2 separate regions of the Homo sapiens genome follow, and region 2 is linked to region 1. The links come from fine-mapping of genetic effects on gene expression. A gene starts in region 1. The other region holds a variant in brackets. All regions are shown on one strand. Distances are between the middles of the regions.

Evidence for each region.
Region 2: its variant is fine-mapped to the expression of TOGARAM2 in skeletal muscle (GTEx, PIP 0.98).

Annotation. Positions count from the first base shown.
Region 1 is chr2:28,976,354-28,985,584 of GRCh38, forward strand. TOGARAM2 (TOG array regulator of axonemal microtubules 2) reads left to right here and starts at 4,945. Exons shown (of 20, transcript NM_199280.4): 1 at 4,945-5,185.
Region 2 is chr2:29,009,758-29,018,988 of GRCh38, forward strand. It overlaps TOGARAM2 (TOG array regulator of axonemal microtubules 2), which reads left to right. Exons shown (of 20, transcript NM_199280.4): 7 at 1,698-1,744; 8 at 4,638-4,804; 9 at 7,397-7,547; 10 at 8,035-8,199. Among named protein-coding and RNA genes, the nearest start is that of TOGARAM2, 33 kb to the left of the region's middle. RefSeq lists enhancers at 1,405-1,534, 5,561-5,610. The variant T/C (reference allele first, on the strand shown) is at 5,163.

The sequences.
Region 1 (9,231 bases):
GAGTGAGACTCCATCTCAAAAACAACAACAACAACAACAACAAAAACCCATCAAATTCTTTTTTGCCATTAGCTTCTGGAGTTATTTACTCACCTATTAACTCCTCCCCTCCCCCTGCCCTCCATCTCTCGAGCTTTCCTGTGGCTGTGGGGCAGGGAGCTGCTCTTCTCTGACACGTCCTTTTGTGGAATGGGGAGAAAGGAGGGAGAGGCACACCCCATGTGAGATGAGGGGTTGGCTTCTGTTGGGAGAAGCCCTGAAGGGCAGCTGGGGCCAGAAGCAGCATAACCAGAAGGCGTTAGTCCCCATCCTGTCATTACCACTGAATTCCTGTGTGACTCCATCATCTGCGATAAGAGGGGCTTGGCCTAGTCCTCTCTCTGATCCTGTGCTTAGGTTGCATACATTATTCTAGAGTTTCCCAGGAACTTCCCAGGGAACACGTCAGCCCAGTGGCAGGTGCTGGTTGGGAGGGGCCTGTTCTGTGTCCTTGGCAGTGTCTGAGCACCCCCACCCAGCCTGTGGTACTGACAGGGCCTTTCAGGCTCTCCAGGCTGGGGCTGGCCTTGGAGGGGGTGGGGCAGTGGTATTTTGGGAGATAAGCCAGCACAGTGTCAGTCTGGAGGCAGTGCCAGCTTGCCTCCATTATCCGCTTTTCTACCTGGGGGGGCGTGGCCTGTGAAGGGATGGGGGGCTTCCAGCCTTTCTCCTCAGCCTGGGCCAGGGCCCAGGACACAGGGCATCAGGGCTCTAAGGGACCAGGAGGTCACCCAGTGTCTGATCACAAATGACAGTTTGGAAGCCCAAGGAGGGCAGGGACTTGTTGGAGGGCACACAGTAATGGTGACAAAGTCAGGACTGGAACCAACTCTCTGTCCACTTGCCTGGAACCCTTGGCCATGCCCTATGCTAACCATCTTTAGCCTGGGGGCACCTTATCCTGAGGGATGGGTACCTGAGACAGAGATGGGGGAGGCGCCTGAGCATACCACCTCCTAGGGTCCCTACCAGGGGCCCTTGCTCCCCATGCTCCCTGGGATCTGACCTCCAGCTAGGCCTGGGATGGTCCTGGTTTATAAGGGGGCAACACCAGCCCAGGGGGTCAGAACTCCCCCTACCTGTTCCCTGCCATACAATGTATGGGGCTGAGACTCTGGTCTGCAGCTTGGATCTCAGGTCTGGTCCTGGAAGAAGCGGTGAATGTTGCAGGGGCGGGGGCTTCTTATGCCGCCAGCCACTTCCTCTCCCCACGTGCAGTCAGGTTGGTGTCGCTCTCTCAACACCCATGTGGAACCTGGCTGGCGCTGGTTCCAGAGATATAAGGCATGAATCCTGCCCCCAAGGAGCTCACAGTCTAGGTCTGTGTGGCTGGCTGGTGGGCCAGGAGAGGGGCGGGCAGTTACAGTCAGCGGATGAGTGGTGCTGTGATAGGGAAGTGCTGGCCCTAGAAAGGCAGATGAGAGGCACCTCTTTTCTAGAGAGTCAGTAAGGACTCCCCTTGGGAGCACGTGGGTGGGAATTGGCCAAGGGAGATAGGTATAAAGTGTTTTTTTTTTGGTTGTTTTTGTTTTGAGATGGAGTCTCATTCTGTCATCCAGGCTGGAGTGCAGTGGCACAATCTCGACTCATTGCAACTTCTGCCTCCTGGGCTCAAGCAATTCTCCTGTCTCAGCCTCCTGAGTAGCTGAGATTACAGGCATGCGCCACCATGCCCAGCTAATTTTTGTATTTTTGGTAGAGACGGGGTTTTACCATGTTGCCCAGGCTGGTCTCGAACCCCTGGCCTCAGGTGATCTGCCTGCTTTGGCCTCCTAAAGTGCTGGGATGACAGGCGTGAGCCACCGTGCCCGGCCGGAGATGGGTATAAGTAAGGGGTAGGAAGGGATATGGGAAAGGCTTTTGGGGTGGAGGGAACAGCATGAACAAAGGCCAGGAGAGGAGAGGAGCATGACAGCTACATCCCAGAGCAAGGGGAGAAGACCCCTCAGTGAAGTCCCTGCTAATAGCCCAGCTACGTGTTCAGGAGACTATTTGGATATAGGATGCTCAGGTCATTTGCAATGGGAAGTGTGTTCAGGGTATCTAGTCCTTCTTGTTGCTAGACATAGAAACAGCTTTGTTCACTTTACAAATCAACAAGGGCCAAGAGGACTCTTGGTGACATTTTTACTGAGGGAACAGGATCAGAATTTAGTAGTCTTCCACTGACCAAATCCATCAGCATGGAAAGTTATAGAATGTTGGTTTCTGAAATCTTGAGTAGATTTCTGGGGTAGATGGGGGCTATCCCCTGTGGATGTGGAGGGGGCTACTTATTTGGTACTTTCAAGAGCCCTCTTCCCAGCTTGTGATTCTGTATTGTGAGTCAGTTTAATTCATTCACATCAAGTATTTGTTCATCGGTTCTGGGGGTGGGAGCAGGCCAGTGTGAGCACACCCAGGAGAGTCGGGGCAATGACTGGGAACACTGGGCACTGGAGGAGACAGGTGACATCTGGTTTCCTTCATAGCTGTTGACCCTCTTCCGAGGGTCTGGCCGCCCTTCCACCAGGGGTCGATACAGGCTTTGTGAGACTCGAGGCTTAAACAATTTGGGGGCTTCTTTAAGAAAGAAAACAAAATTAAGTATGAAAATATTTTTTTAGAATGAGAAAAGAAGTCACAACAAATGACTGAGGGCTGGATTCGTGTCCCTTTCTTTCTGAGGTCTCTTCAGGGGAGTTCCAGAGAGCTTCCAGGTGGCAGCCTGGCTGCCCTCCCCACCTGGAGTGCCCCAATCCTTCCAGGCAGCTCCTGGCTCCCCCAGAGGCCCGGGGCTCAGGTTGTGTTTGCCTCAGCGGTTTCCACCCATGCTCCTCGACTGGCCTGCTCCTTACCTCGGGGATTTCATGTGGATGTCACACCTCACTGCCCCTGGGATTCGCTCTCTGTCCATGGTCACAGTGAGGGTGAGTGCGTGCTCTGTGCCTGGCGGGCACACTGAGGGTCACTGGAGCCACCCCAGGGAGGGAGGATCTGCAGTCTTCCTGCTAGGCATATGAAAGAACCAAGACTCAGAGAGTTTGTTTCTTGCCTAAGATGTCATTGCTGGGATCAGAATCCAGTCTGGAATCCAGGGGCTTCAGAGCCCTGGTTCTTAAGGGCTGTGCTGTGTTATCCATCCTCCCTTATTGCAGGTAACACAGGAACAAGCAGGGGGTTACCTGCTGGGGCCTCTCTCCATCACTCAGCTCCTGAGGGCAGGCTGTGCTGCCTCCTGTGTCTCTAGCATTTGGCACAGAGCATGGCCAGCCCACCTTGGGAACACATAATGCTCGGCCATCCAGTGGAGGCAGAGTGTGGAGAGCCCAGGAGCTGAAGGAGGATGCAGTGGGGCCTGATTAGAGGGGCTTGGCAGCCATGGTGCTAAGTCTGGCCCTTACACCAAGGACAGCAGGGGCCATGAGGGGTGTCCAGCAGGGCACGGCCATCGGATCTGTGTTCTAGAAGCTCCGACTCAAGCAGCGACATGCAGATGGGCTTTGGGGGAGCTGCACACACACCATCTCCCTGCCAGAGCTGAGGGACACCAAAACCTGCCTTGTCACGTCCCCGCCCTGGGTTCCCATGGTTGAGTCGCTCTCACTCACAAGCTGTGTGGCTTGGGGCAAGGGCTTAACTTGCCAGGCCTCTCTTTCCCCACCTGGGCATCTTCATACCTGTCTCCCAAGGGGAATCCGCACAGCCACTGTTCCTGGTTTGGAGGAAGAGTCTCCTTTCTGGGCCTCTGCTACAGGGAGTTCAGGAGTTCCGTTCGCCTTGTCAGCTGTGACCTCTGGCTTGGGGCCAGCACCTGCCCCAGAGGGACCTTGTTCTCAGTCATAATTGGCTGGCCCTCCTTGCTCCCTCCTGGATCTTGGTAAATGACAGCAGCTACTCCCAAGGCCTGCCCTCCCTGGCCATCTCAGGGAAGAGGAGAGAGTCCCAGGAAGGAGCTACCCCGTGTGCAAGCATTTCAGCAGCCCAGGCCTCGTGGGGTGTAGTTGGCCTCCCACCAGCCATCCCTGTGTGTTCCACACACCTGCTGATTCCTTTGTACAGAATATGGGGAGGAGCTGCCTGGGAAAATTCATAGTATCTTTGGGCGAGTGGCTGTTTGCAAGCCTGCATACAAATTGAGTCCTTGGCTTCCACTGTGTGCCCCCTGGATGGTGAGGGCTAGAAGGGGGTAGCATGAGGAGTGGGACTGGCTGTCATTCCAGAGAGAGGATGCCAGCCTGGGATTTCCGCCCAAGAGCCTGGGTTCAGTGAGAAAGTACACATGGGCTGCTAGGATTCACATTTTCCAAAAGTTAAGGTGGAGAAATCTGGTTGGGACGAAGGCCACAGGCTTTCTGCTCTGCAAGGATTTCTGGGGAAGTGATGGAGAGCCTACCAAGTGCTAGACAAAATTACAAGCTGTTACATGCACCTTTGAAATCCTTACAGCAACCCTATCAAGTCAGTACTATTGGTGTACCCATTTTATAGATGAGGAAACTGAGGTCAAGAAAGGTAAAGTTCTGACCAGAGGGCACACAGCTGGAAGTAGCAGGATCAGGATTCAAACCCAGCTGCCTGCTGCCAAGGCCTGGATGCTCACTCTGTCTTTCTGCCTCTAGGAGAGTTAGTAAACAGAAGCAGATTGAGCCCAGAGGCCATGTGAGCAAAACCAGGAGTTCTACCAACAACATCCCTGCACCAAGCCAGCTATGCACTTCCTGGCTGCAGTCACCAGGCAGGGGGGCCCAGTGCTCTCTCTTTCTGTGGTGTCCATGACCCTAGAGGACAGGTCGGCCACTTGGTAGTGCCTGTGCTCCGGTGAGCCACAGAGGCAATGAGACCAAGGGGAAAATCTCTCGGCTCGGTCTCTCCCCCGCGCAGGGAGCTATGGGCTCCTTCAGCGAGTGGTTGCTATGCAGCCTTGTTTATTCAAGGAGAGCTTTGCTGAGAGCTGGAGCACGCCAGCAGTGGAGCTCGTGGCCACCCAGCCCCTGCTCAGACAGGAGGCTGCGGCCCAGGACTGTGTGGCTGGTGGGGGCCAGGGTGGGCCAGGCCTGGGGCTGCCCCGTCCTTGCCTCCCTGGGCCCATGAGCATCAACGTCTCTATAGAGACCAAGGACCCTGGATTCCTCCAGTGACAGGGGTTTGGCCTCTGGACAGAGAGGTGAGAGACGATAGGTCCACCAAGCCATCTATTGTAGGTGGTGAATGGGAGGCTGGGTCAGGACCCCTGAAGTCCCTGGAGGGAGGGATAAAGACCTGAACTGGAGCAAGCACAAACACACAGAGAAAGAAAAAGCATCCTGCTGTGACTTGGAGGCTGTGTGACCGTGGGGATGTCTCTGACCCTTTCTGGGCCTTCATGTGGCAGCTCTAGGGGAGGAGGTTGGACTCACTGTTCTCTGAGCACTGGGAGCCAAGGAAGGAGGGGCTGGCCTGGGCTGACCCCTTCCCCGAGTCATGGCCTCTGTGGGCAGTGCTCTCTACCTCAGGGTGAACCCTTCACAGGGCAACAGCTCCCTGGGGTGCTGTGGGCGATGGTGCCGGGAAGGGTGGGGGCATGCTGTGGGGATGGCACCCGTGCTTAGGGGTGCTGGGGCACCCCGTGAGAGCATAGGCCTTGGAGGGGCTCTGCTCTGGGTTTGAATTCTAACCCCCCCTCTTTCTGGCTGTGTGGACTTGAGCTCTTTGCCTCTCTGAGCCTCAGGTTTCTCATCTGTGAAGAAGGGTTTAAAAAAAGCCCCCTTGGTGCTGTCTGTGAGCATGGAGACAGTCAGGAGGGCAGCTGGCACGTTAGCCCATGCGCAGAATGGAAGTTACTGTTTGTTGTTGATGCTGTTGTTAGGTGGAGATTGGCATGTTCCTTTCTGGAGCACATTTCAGTCTCCTGAAACTAAGGTTTTGCCAGTCACTTCTCCAGGACAAGGGCTGGTGCTGGCGGGGGACCTCAGAGGGCTGCCATTTCCTCAGGAGCGCTGGGAGGGGAGGGACTGGGGCCCGTACTCTGTCGGAGCATCACTGAGGCAGGCCACAGGGCATTGGTGCCTGGCCCCAGGAAGTGGTGTGAGGGGCCCATAATCGCTTCTATCCTGAACTGGGCAGTCCCTCGCTCTTCTCACCAATGCCCTGCAGGAGACGGCCCTGCAGCCTTCTAGCCACAGGCTGGCTCCCAGGACTGGCTCAGTTTCAGCCCATGGAGCCTGAGACTAACAGATTTGAAGAAAGGGGGAGGTAGTTGGGGGCAAGGGATGGGGAGATGTCAACCTGAGCTCTGGAGAGACCTGCCTCTGAGGGCAGCGCATCCTCCCATTGACCCCACGGCTACCTCAGAGGCACCAGACTCTGCTCACTAGCACAGAGGCTGGAAGTTTATTATTGCAGACAGAAGAATGCATAAAATGCATGCAGTGTGAGGAATAATTATAAAGTGAATGTCCATGTAGCCACCTCCCAGGCCAAGAAACAGAAAAACTGGCCGCCTCCCAGAACCCACCCCCGTGGGCCCTGTCCTTATCACAGCTGCCTCCCTTCCCCTTAGGGTTAATCATGCTACTAATTTTTCCTTGATTTTCTATCAAGTTTTCCATCTATGTCTGCATTTTTATTTTAATTTAATTTCGCTTCATTTTTTGAGACAAGGTTTCACTCTGTCCCCCAGGTGGGAGTACAGTGGCATGATCTCAGCTCACTGCAACCTCTGCCTCCTAGGCTCAAGTGTTCCTCCCACCTCAGCTTCCCAAGTAGCTGGGTGTACAGGTGCACACCACCATGCCCGGCTAATCTTTGTGTGTGTGTATATATAAATATATATATATATATATATATTTTTTTTTTTTTTTTTTTTTTTTTTTTGTAGAGATGGGTTTTTTCCATGTTGCTCAGCCTGGTCTCGAATTCCTGGCTCAGGTGATATGCCTGCCTTGGCCTCCCAAAGTGCTGGGATCACAGGTGTGAGCCACCACGCTGGGCCTATGTATGCATTTCTAAACACTCGATGTAATTTTGTCTTTCTTTGAACTTTATAGAAGTAGGGGCATACCCTGTGTGGTCTCTTGGGTCTGTCTTCTTTCACTAAACATTACGCTGTGGCATCGTCCATAGTGTTGAGTGGGGCAGTCGTTTGTTTCATTGCTCTGTAATATTCTATGTTGTGAGTGCACCATGATTTAGTCCTTCATTTTCCTGTTGGACATTTAGATTTTTTCCAGATTTTGGCCATTATCCATGGCACTGCTCTGGACACTCTCGAGCTCCTTTCCTGGATCACCTGTGCAAGACTTTCTCAAGGGTGGGTTCCTAGGAGTGGAATTGCTGAACATTAGGTTTGTGCATTTTTAGCTTTATCAGGTAAAGCCAGACCACTTTCCCAAGGGTTTGTGCCCATTTGCATCTCACCTGCCAGCTGTCATGAGTGCTCCCATTGCTCTGTGCTCTCACTAGCACTTGGCATTGCCGCCCATCTCAATTTTTGCCCATCTTTGTGGGATGGTGGTAGCATCTCATTTGCATTTTCTTGATTACCAGGGGGTTGAGCATCTGCCCCCAGCCATTCTTCCTCACCTCTTTCCTCCTCTGTTGGGTGCCTCCCTTCCTCTGCTCTCTGTGATCTCAGCCCCTCATGGTGCTCAGGCTTTTGAGCCCCATTTTTCTCTCTGCCCTCCCCACTCCTCCATCCCTCTCCTCCATTCTTCTTCTTGGAGAACCAATCACTATTCCACATACTTCTTAGTGTTTGAATTACAGACCCAGGCTCCAGAGCCACTGTCTGGAAGTCTGAGTTTCCCATTTCGTGTTTTAAAACCTCTGGTTCTTGGCCCAACTCACATCCCTTCCTGGGTCTTGGATTTCTCTTCAACAAAACAAAGACAGAAAAAAAAATGTCCCTCCACAGAAGCCATTTATATTTCCCAGGCAAAACCTGGTGTATGTCCTGGAGAGGCACACACAAAACTCTGGCTCCTATTCAAGAAAGTCGGCTTTCTCATGGGCCATTGGGAAGGGACAGGGCCGGGGTCTGAAGTCTTCTGAGCTTCTTGCAGGGAGGCCTTTGCCAAGAGCCCTTTCCTGGGGTGTGACAGACATTCAGATGCTAGAGTCATGCCAATACACCTTTGCTGAGACTTTGGACAAGATGCTTTCTTGCTTCCTAGTCCCTTCTGATCCTCTGAGTACATGTGCTTGTTTACAGTCTACAGTTTGAAGATTCAAGCTCCTGCTACTGGGCAGGAATCCTCAACTGATCAGCCAAACCCTGCAGAAGGCATTCCTGGGGCAGTGGACCAAGCCATTTTTCATTCGAGACTCCAGGACTATGATCAAGTGCTAGGATAACTCTTACCTTGATGGTGGAAATCTCAGGGCCAGCAGAAGACTTCCAAGCCCCAGCCAATGGCTGTGTGATTTCAGGCAGGATTGATGCGGTGGTATCCTACCCCTCCCAAAACCTTAATCCTTGGGAGCACACTACACAGGCTCTGACCAGGCACTGTAGTGGCAAGGTGACCATTTTGGGGAGGCCTTGATGGGAAGCTGGAAAAGGAAGCTTTCCTCCCAGTCCTGCTGAAGGCCTTGCCAGCTGGCAGCCAGTGTGATGCCTATAGGGGTATGGGCCCTGGGATAGGTATTGGCTCCTGATGGCCTTATGTAGGTGTTATAGACTGAATGCATGCGTCCCACAAATGCAAATGTTAAAGCCTAACCCCCCATGTGTTGGTATTAGGAGGTGGGGCCTTCGGGAGGTAATTAGATTCAGATGAGGTCGTGAGGGTGGTTGTCTCATGATGGGTTAGTGCCCTTAGAAGAAGAGACCAGAGAGCTTGCTCTCTGTCTCTCTCTCTGCCATGTGAGGACAAAGGGAAGACAGCTACCTGCAATCCAGGAAGTGAGTCCTCACCAGGAGTGGAATCAGCTGGCACCTTGATCTTGGACTTCCCAGCCTCCAGAACTAAATTGCTGGGGTTTTTTTTTTGTTTTGCTTTTCATTTTTTTGTTTTGTTTTTGTTTTTGTTTTAAGTCGGAGTTTTGCTCTTGTTGCCCAGGCTGGAGTGCAATGGTGTGATCTCGGCTCATTAACCCCTCATTTACAAGGGAGGAAACTAGCTGACCTCCAAGGCCCCTTCCAGCTTGAAATTTAGTAACAGAAGAAAGGCATGGGAAATTCTGTTAAATTACTAGACCAAGTTCTGATTAATCTCTAATTTATATTTGCAC
Region 2 (9,231 bases), 33 kb after region 1:
AACAGGGCTTTGCTGCTCCTGCTCCACCCACCTCCTTGGGGCCTGCGGAGGAGCCTGAGCGGTGGTGGGTTTTCTGTGAGGTTCGCACAGGGTGGGGCGGGGCTGCCACGTGCAGGAAGGCAGGGGCCCTGATCGGCATGGCCTGTCTTGGCCTCAGTCCTTTCTGCTGTGGGGTCGCTAGAGAAGGGGAGGGCAAGAGGCTTCCCCAGGGTCCACAGCTTAAGAGAAGCTGCGCCAAGTCCTCTGAGGCCAAATCCCTTGCTCAGAGCAGGTGTGTGTGTGTGTGTGTGTGTGTGTGTTGGGGGGGCGCAGAGCGGGGGAGGCTGCAGCTCAGGGCCCCAGGGGCAAAGCCGAGGCATAAGCATTGGGGTTTTTGGCATCCTGTGCTCACCTCAGGCAGCCTGGGACCTCCATGAGCTCATAGAAGCCAAGGGCAACTGTGTGGACTTTGATGCTCCACTTCCCCTCCCCGCCCGCCTCCAATCCTCTTAGTGCCGTTGGGCAGTGGTTAAGCAGTGGTGGGTTACAATGGCAAAGGCCTAGTGGGCGAGCTCCCCAGGTCAGGGGTGCCCTGGAGCATTCGCTTACTATCTCCAGCCCACACGATCCCTCCCTGTGGGTCCAGACCCAAGAGGCTGGGCCTGGCCCTGGGAGCAATGGCGAATCCCGGCTGATCTACGCCCAGGTTGAAGCTCCGCTCCTCCTGTGGACTCCCCTGACCTCCACAGTCCCCAAGGATCAGGGTTCCCCTGCATCCAGGCAGGCACTGAGGGGGGCTGTCCTACCGCCCCTCCTGCAGCCCGGCCTGGACTGTGATCCTCTGAGGCCAGTGTGTGGGATATTGTGTTCCTGACCTGTTGCTGTGGCTTGTTACTCTGTCAGCCCCCCAGTGGGTCCTGATGTCCACCGAGAAGGGAAAGCCATGTAGGACGCTGCAGGGCTGGTCTCCATGGGAACCTGAGCTCCCGGAGGGCGGGGAGTGTCATGTCTTATTGATGCTCCATTCCCAGTGTCTAGAATAGTGCTTGACACATAGTAGGTCTTCAGTAAATATCTGTTGAATAAGTAAATGGTGCTTCCAACTTAAGAAATTACAATTAAAACCAGTGCCAGGGATGCCACTGTCTTCCCCCTCCTGTGGGTAATTGGGATTGAGCTTCTGGTACAAAACAGTGGTGACTTCCTGCCACAGCAAAGGGGATCAGCTCCGCCCCCCAGGCCCTGGGATGGGGATTACAATCACGAGTGGGACTATTTAGGGGTCACTGAGCTCTCACGGGGTTGGGGCAGCTTGGAGAACTTGAGCTCAGTGCTGTCTAAGCTGGGAGGCAGTTTACCCTTGTTTACTGCAGCTGCTGTCAACTCCACAGGCCCAAGCAGCACAGCGGGAGGGTGGGGGCTTCCTTTAAGTCAGCAGTTTCTGTGTGGGTGTCAGCCTCCTGGGGAATGCGCGAGCTGCACTGCCAGGAAATGGGGCTGAACCTGGCCTGGTGGTCAGCCTGCCCTTGTGTTTGCAGAGGGAGCTGTATCTCCTGCAGCTTGAATCCTGGGCCAAGAGCCTCTGCAGGGATAACAGTGCCGTCCCCTCTGTCCCCCATCTCGGCCATTGCCCCATCCTGGAGCCACCCTGGGCTCCCCCAGCAGTGTCTCTGGCTGGCCATCCCTCATGATGCTTTTCTCTCCCCCGTTCTTTTAAGATTGGCTCGGGGGAGTGGGCCTCGGGAGAAGACCCCTGCATCTCTGGGTACGTATCTTCCATGCACACCTCCCTTTGTTATTTGACTCTCTACATTCCTGGGCTGGGTCAGGGAAACAGAATTAGGGCCAGAGGAGATCTGAGAGCTCTTGTGTCTGGGCCCTTCATTTCACAGCAGGAAGCTGAAGTCACCGGAGGTCTAACCGGAGGGTGGCAGCGGGCCCGGGCGAGGTGTGGAAGAGAAGTGACATTTATTGACACCTGCTCTGGTACGTCAGGTGTGATGACGTACACCAGCTTGTGCAGCTTGCCACGGCCTCGATAAGAGAGACAATTCTGGCCGTGTGTGACAGACGAGCTGGCACACGAAGGCTCTGTGAGCAGGATGTCCTCCCTGGTCGCTGAGCCCCATCAGGCTTGCAGCCAAGTTTCCACGGCTCCAAAGCTGGGGTCTTGACACATCAAGCAGCTGCCCCTTGCGGTGTGTTAAGCAAGTAGAGAGAGTATTCCTCACCTAGAGAATGAGAGGGTAAACCAGAGCCCACAAACCTCAGCCAGCTGGCCCCAGGAGCTTTAGCTGTCAGGATATAGGGCCAGCACAGGATTGAGGCGAGGAGAGGGGACAGGGCAGGGTAGGAGGCCTTTAAAGAGGGAGGAGGGATCCTTCCTGGATTGAACTCTATGGGGAGGTGGGACGGGTGGATGGAAGCTGAGCCTCTGCTGCAGGGTTGGGGAGCAGAACACCCCGAACCCAGGCCAGGGTGGGGAGGAGTTGGAGGCAGCCGCTCTACTGCCCGGCAGGAGGGGTGGCCTCCCCAGGACCAGCTTCCTGGCAGGTCACTCTGCTAATCAGCTCAGCTGGTGGGGCAGTTGGCGAAGGGGGGTGGCTGTTGCCCAAGAGGCCCTGGGATCAAGACACAAAGCTGGACCTGGCACAAGAAACCTCTGCGGCAGCTGCTTCTCCCCTGCTCCCGGGCCAGGCTGCAGCAGGGTGAGCTCAGGCAGTCTGTGGCGAAATGCACCGGCACCCTGAGTGACCTTAAGAGCTAACCCGGAGGACGCTGGTGTGGGGGTTGGGCCAGGAGACCCCAGTCAGTAACCACTTCCTCCCCTGGCTCTCCAGCTTGCTGCTTGAGAACCAGGTCACCAGGGACCTGTGGCAGGGGCAGGCTGCTCAGACAGGGCTTTCCAGGGCATCCCTTTGGGGTGGAGGTGAAGAAGTGACATAAAAAATAGTTAAGTCCTTAAAGGGCTCTCTGCCCTCCAGCTGGCAACTGGGCTGACACTGCCCTCTGTGTGCAACATGCCTAGCACATGGTAGGGGCTCACAGGGTCTTGTCTGAAGCTGGGGGCTTCCTCACATCTGTGGCATTCCTGCAGTCCTTGCCCTGGCCAGGTGGTGCCTACCACATGTGCCCTCTGCTCTGCCTCTTACCTCTGGGCAGATGAGGCTTCAAAGCCCCTCTTCCCCCTTGGCCCTTGATCCTTCTCCCTGCACCAAGCAGAGGAATCCTTTGCAGAAGACATGGCCTGGGCAGAGGACCTGGGTGACCTGGGAGCTCTGCACGGGCCCCAGAGGTAAGATGCCTTTTCCAGCCTCAGGCAGCCTCAGCTGGTGGCCCCATCTCAGCAGACCCCTGACTTGCAGGTTCACCCAAGGACAGTGAGCTCCAAACCCTGTGGGTGGCAGAAAATGAATGAACCTGTTTGAGCCCTGCCTTCATAATGAGAAATGTACCTTTAAAATCCGCTGATGGGGAAGATATGAATGACAAAGCAATACTGTGGATTTGATGCCATCAAGTGGAAGTGAACGGGTATTTTATCCATCCCAAGAGCATTCGAAGGTTACTGGCTGTATTAGTCAGGGTTCTCCAGAGGGACAGAACTAGTAGGATATATGTCTGTATATAAAGGAGTTTATTAGGGAGAATTGGCTCACACGATTACAAGGTGAAGTCCCACAGGCGGCCATCTGCAAGCTGGGGAAGAGAGAGGCTGGTAGTGGCTCAGTCCAAGTTCGAAAGCCTCAAACCAGGGACGCCAACAGTGCAGCCTTCAGTCTGTGACCAAAAGTCCGAGAGCCCCTGGCAAGCCACTGGTGCAAGTCTCAGAGTCCAAAGGCCAAAGAACCTGGAGTCTGATGTTTAAGGGCAGGAGGAGTAGAAGGAAGCGTCCAGCAGGGGAGAAAGCAGGCAGCCAGAAGACCCGGCAAGCAAGGTGATCCCACCTTCTTCCACCTGCTTAGTTCTAGCTGCGATGGCAGCTAGCAGCTGATTGGATGGTGCCCACCCACACTGAGGATGGGTCCTCCTCTCCCAGTCCACTGACTCAAAGGTCGATCTCCTCTGGCAGCTCCTTCACAGACACACCCAGAAACAATACTTGACCAGCTATGTAAGCATCCAATCCAGATGGCACCTAACATTAACCATCACACTGGCTCTCAGCTTTTCCGTCTGTGAAATGAGACTGGACTAGTGTTAGATCTCTGGTCCTGGCAACTCTGCCCTTTCCTGCTGCGTCATGCTTTCAGGCAAGCCCATGGTCATATGAAAGGATTGGTGGGCCCATTTTGCTTTTTCTTTTCCTGCCGTACGTACCTCCCAGGACAGATACACTTACTTATATTCTCAGGAAATGTCTTACATCTCCTGGATAACACATCTGGCCCTGTTTCCCGCCCAGCCTCCCCAATCCCACACCTATCTTGGAATAAAGTGTGCAGTGAATGAACGAATGGAGGGTGATGCTGGTCCACAGGTAGTCTGTCTCATGCCTGCCAGTGCTGCCCTGTACAGTAAACCTAACTCAGGTCTTGCTCCATTGAGGAAGAATTGAGGGTGTGGGGCTTAGCAGTAGAATTGAGCCAGCCACAGGGTCAGTGAGCTCAGCAGTGACCTGGGTGTCTTCAGCTCCACCCCTGTTCTCAACCCCTCAGAGCCAAAACCTTTGGCCTCACCCATCAGAGACAGGCCTGCCGCTGCCAAGAAGCCTGCCCTGCCTTTTTCTCAGTCTGCTCCCACGCTGACAGCCTTCTCCTTTGACTGTGCCAGAGAAGCCTGCCCTCCGCTGAAAGAAGAGGACCAGAAGGAGATCGGCACCAAGGTACCTGGGGAGCGGGAGGAGGAGGAAGTGGGGCTGGAGTGGACCGCAGGCTGCAGGAAGGCAAGCAAGTGTCTGAAGTATTCAAGAGTGGGACCAGCCACAGAGCAGAGCAAGGAGAGCCCGAGGCAGCCACCCAAGTACTAAAGGCCAGAACCTGCAGACGGGGTTGGGGTGAAGGCTGAAGAAAGGAAGAGAAAGGATGGGGGTCAGAAGCGGGGTGGGGAACTAGGTGCAGGGAAGACTGCAGAGGGTTGCTGAAGGGGTAGGAGGGAGGAAGGAAGGAGGACGGGGAGGTTGCACAGGGCTCACGAGGAAGCCGGACGTGGGGAGAGAGCAGGAAGCCTTAGGTGAACTGCGC[T/C]GCGTGGTTTGAACTAACACCCAAGATAGCAAATGAGAGGCAGCTGACTCAGGGCTGATCAGCCACGGGCTGTGCTCCAGGGACTGGCGAATACCTCACACTTCTCAGGTGACCTTGGAAGGTGGTCTCTTCCCTGGTTGGAACGAATTTAGTGAAGCTTGGGGAGTCACTGTAGTGAGGAGCCTGTGCTCATTCTTTGAGACAGAACATTCCAGGTCAAGAAGCATATCTTGAAGGCCTCCTGGGTGCATATTCTCTGTTAGAGACTGGGTGACTGTTAAATCAGCACCACAACCCTCCCACTGTAGAGAGGACCACAGAACAGGAAACACAAACAATGATTCAGTGCAGCGAAACGAGCTGATCCTCCACCCCACTTCTGCGCTCCCTCCTGTGGCCACATCGTAGGCCTTGGCATTCTAAAGTGTGTCCCCCCACCATGGTCTCAATTTCAAGCATCCCATTGGCTCACCACCTTCTCCTGCTGTTCTGCTCAATCCAGCTAATCCTTCAGTTCCAACACTTGTTCCCTCTCTGGCATCAACAATATTCTCCTTGAAACAGGATCATTGCTATCAGCATGTTAGCTCTCTGTTACCTCTTTCATTTTAAGAAAGCGGAACAAAACCAAGAGAAAATGATTGCCGTGTCTCTCTTCTCTCCTTTGTCCACTCCTGACAGGCATTAGTCCACACTCCCCACTGAAACTGCCCACATTGGAGTTGCCAATGACCTTCATCTTCCCAAATGCAGCCACGGTTAGTCCTTGTCTACCTTGACCCCATCGCAGCTTTTGATACGACTTGTGTCTCATCCTTGAATTCTCCAGCCAGGGATAGGGGTGAGGGGTGGCTCTTTTTTGGTCCTGCCTACGTGAAAGGCAGCTCCTTCCCAGCCCTTCTTGGCTGCCTCCTCCTCATCTCCCCGGCCTCTGGATGCTGGAACTCCCCCAGCGCTCAGCCCTCTGGCCTCTCGTCTATTTATACTGACCCGCTAGGTCCTCATCCAGTCCAGACATTAAGTACCATCTCTATGCTGAGGACTCCCACACCTCCCTCGCCAGCCTAGACCTTCCCTTGACCTCCAGACTAACATGTTTAGCTGCTGCTCAATATCTCTGCTTAAGTGCCTAATTATACTTCCAACTGACTGTGTCTAAAACTCAACCCTTGAATGCTCACCTCAGAAAACCTCCTCTCTCCCCAGGGGCCCACTCAACTCCAGCCTTCCAGTGGCTCAGGTCAACCACCTCGGGCGTCCTTGGCTCCTCTCTTCCTCTCTCGCCCCGCACCTCATATATCAGCGAAGAGAGTGAGCTGCACCTGAGAAGCATGTCCAGAATCTGCCCACCCCACCATCCCCATCGCCGTCCAAGCCCCACCACCTCTTGATTGGATGTTCAGCTGCCTCCTAAACACTCTTCCTGCTTCCAGTGTGAGGCTAGCTCCAGACCCTTCCCGTGCAGCAGCTGGCATGAGCCTTAGAGAAATGGAAGTTAGAACGTTCTGTGGATGTGGAAGATATTATCACTGGGGAAGGGTGAAGGGAACACAGGAAGTCTTGGTTCTATTTTGACAACTTACGAGTTGTTCTTGCGTCTTAAACTATTTCAAAATAAAAAATTATAAAAAACAACACTTAGAGACAGCCCCCACCAGTGGAAGGCAGATCATGTCACTCCTCTGCTCAAAACCTTAAACGGCTTCCTGTGTCCTTCAGAGGAGAAGCCCAGTCCTTTCCTTGGCCCGGGTGATGTGGATCCTGCCCCCTGCCTGATCTTGTGTCCTGTCACTTCTCTGACTCAGAGAGTTCAGCCAGTGTCCACCCCCTGACTGTCCCCAACCAGCCAAGCACACCCGGCCTCAGAGCTTTTGCACTCACTCCCTCTGCTTCAAACACTTCTCTCCTAGAAATCTGTGGGGCTGGTCTCCTTCCTTTATTTCTGTCTCCACTTAAGCTTCACCTCCTCGGGGAGTCCCTAGGGACCTTCTAGGCTAAAAGCCACTATCATCTCTGTCTCCTTACTTTTCTTTCAGCACATACTGCCTGATATCAGCATTTGGTCTGTTTGTTGTCTCTCCCCCACACTTCAAAGCTCTTAAGGTGCAAGGAGTTTGTCTTTTTTGTTCACTTCCAGGACAGCAATTGGCACACAGTAGAAACATTTTTGATGATTGAATGTTGATGATTGAATGAATGGGAGGTTAATAGAGTTTGCCTTGACCTTGTGCCAGATCCAAGTCACCATCTCCAAGTCTGCCCGGGAGAAGATGCAGCTGAAGCAGATGAAGGAGATGGAGCTGCTTCGGAGGCTGGAGGAGCCCAGGACAGGGCAGGAGCTCACTTCCCAGTGCCTGGGCTCCCAGAGAGCCTTCATGAAGGAAGGTACTGGGTGCCTGGTGTGGGATTTGCTCAGGCCTGGGGAGCTGAGTCCACTCTCTCATAGCCTGCTGATGGGCCCATTTTCTTTTTTAAAATTTTTATTAGTATTTATGTATTTATTTAGAGATGGAGCCTCACTCTGTGGCCCAGGCTAAAGGGCAGTGACACAATCACAGCTCACCACAGCCTCAAACTCTTGGGCTCAAGGGATCCTCCCACCTCAGCCTCCCAAGTAGTGGGAAATACAGACGTGTGCTACCATGCTTGGCTAATTTCTTTTAAATTTTCTGTAGAGATGGGCATCTCCCTATGTTGCCCAGGCTGGTCTTGAACTCCTGGCCTCAAGCCATCCTCCTACCTCGGACTCCCAACATGTTGGGGGTACTGGCATGAGCTACTTTGGCCAGCCATGGGTCCATTTTCAAAGGAGGACATTGAGGCCAGGGGAAAACAGACCTGCCTAGTCCTAGGACTTTCTCTGTGTCCACAGGCCTCCTTCCCCTCCGGGGCAGCGGGACACTGTCTGTGCCCACTAGGCTGAGCGGCCCATGCAGAAACGACGTCAGCATCATCCTGAGGAAGTGGGCCAGCCGGGCCTCCCTGCCCAGCATCCCCATCAGCCGGCAGGAGCCCCGCTTTGCCCGCCACGCCTCAGGTGGGCAGGCCCGACTGGCAGGCACACGTGTCCCTCTGCCCATGCTGCCTCAGGATGCCCTGAGGCATGGCAGAGGTGACCTCGGTGGCTTTGCTTCCGCCCCTTGTCCATGTTAGACCAGGAGGCAGCCTGGGGTGGTGGTTGCCTTGCCAGAGAGAGAAACAGTGTCAGGGACTCATCATTGTCTACAGGCTGGGCTTGGGACCCAGGATGTCACAACTGGAGTTGTGATGTCCTCAGCCTGTGTGACATGTCCGGAGGAGTGACCAGTGCACGAGGGCCAAAGACACTAGACAATAGCACCCAAGGAAGCAGCTGTGAACAGCAGAAAGAGGATGAGAGGATTGGGGAAGACCTCGGTTTCTTTCCTGTTGCTTCATAAAATGTCAGGGCTGGACAGCACTGGCTACAGACAGGAATCAGAGGGTCCAGAGCTTCTACCAGGGCACCTCAGGAATCGTGCCTGGGACATGGGGACGCTCTGTCCCCATTCTACCAGAGGAGCTTCTATGTTGCCTCATTTTTTTTTTTTGTATACTGGGCATTCATGTGAGATTTCATTTGGAAAGATTTTGCTACTGAAAAAAACTTAAAAACAGTCAGCTTGGTTCAGAGTTTCTGTAAGTGTGGGATGTGATGGTAAATGATCATGGACTAGAGCATAATTTCCATGCTGTAAATAATGCCAGCTCATCTCCCTTTTCAATCCTCTTTCTATCCTTTCAATTGTCTCAAGTAGAAAGTCTGAATTTGGTGCTAGTCTTTAGCACCTCTTTTTTTATTTTTATTATTTTTTATAAAGAAAAGAGGTTTAATTGGTTCATAGTTCCACAGGCTGTACAGGAACCATAGTTGCTTCTGCTGCTGGGGAGGCCTCAGGAAACTTGCAATCATGGTGGCACCTCTCTCTTTAAACAAGGAGATCCTCTTTCAGGCTCAAAGACAGAAGCTGCCTACAAATTTTTTAGCTAGAGTTTTAACATTGTTTTACTTTCATTGTAAATATTTATCATATTCTATGACAAACAATGT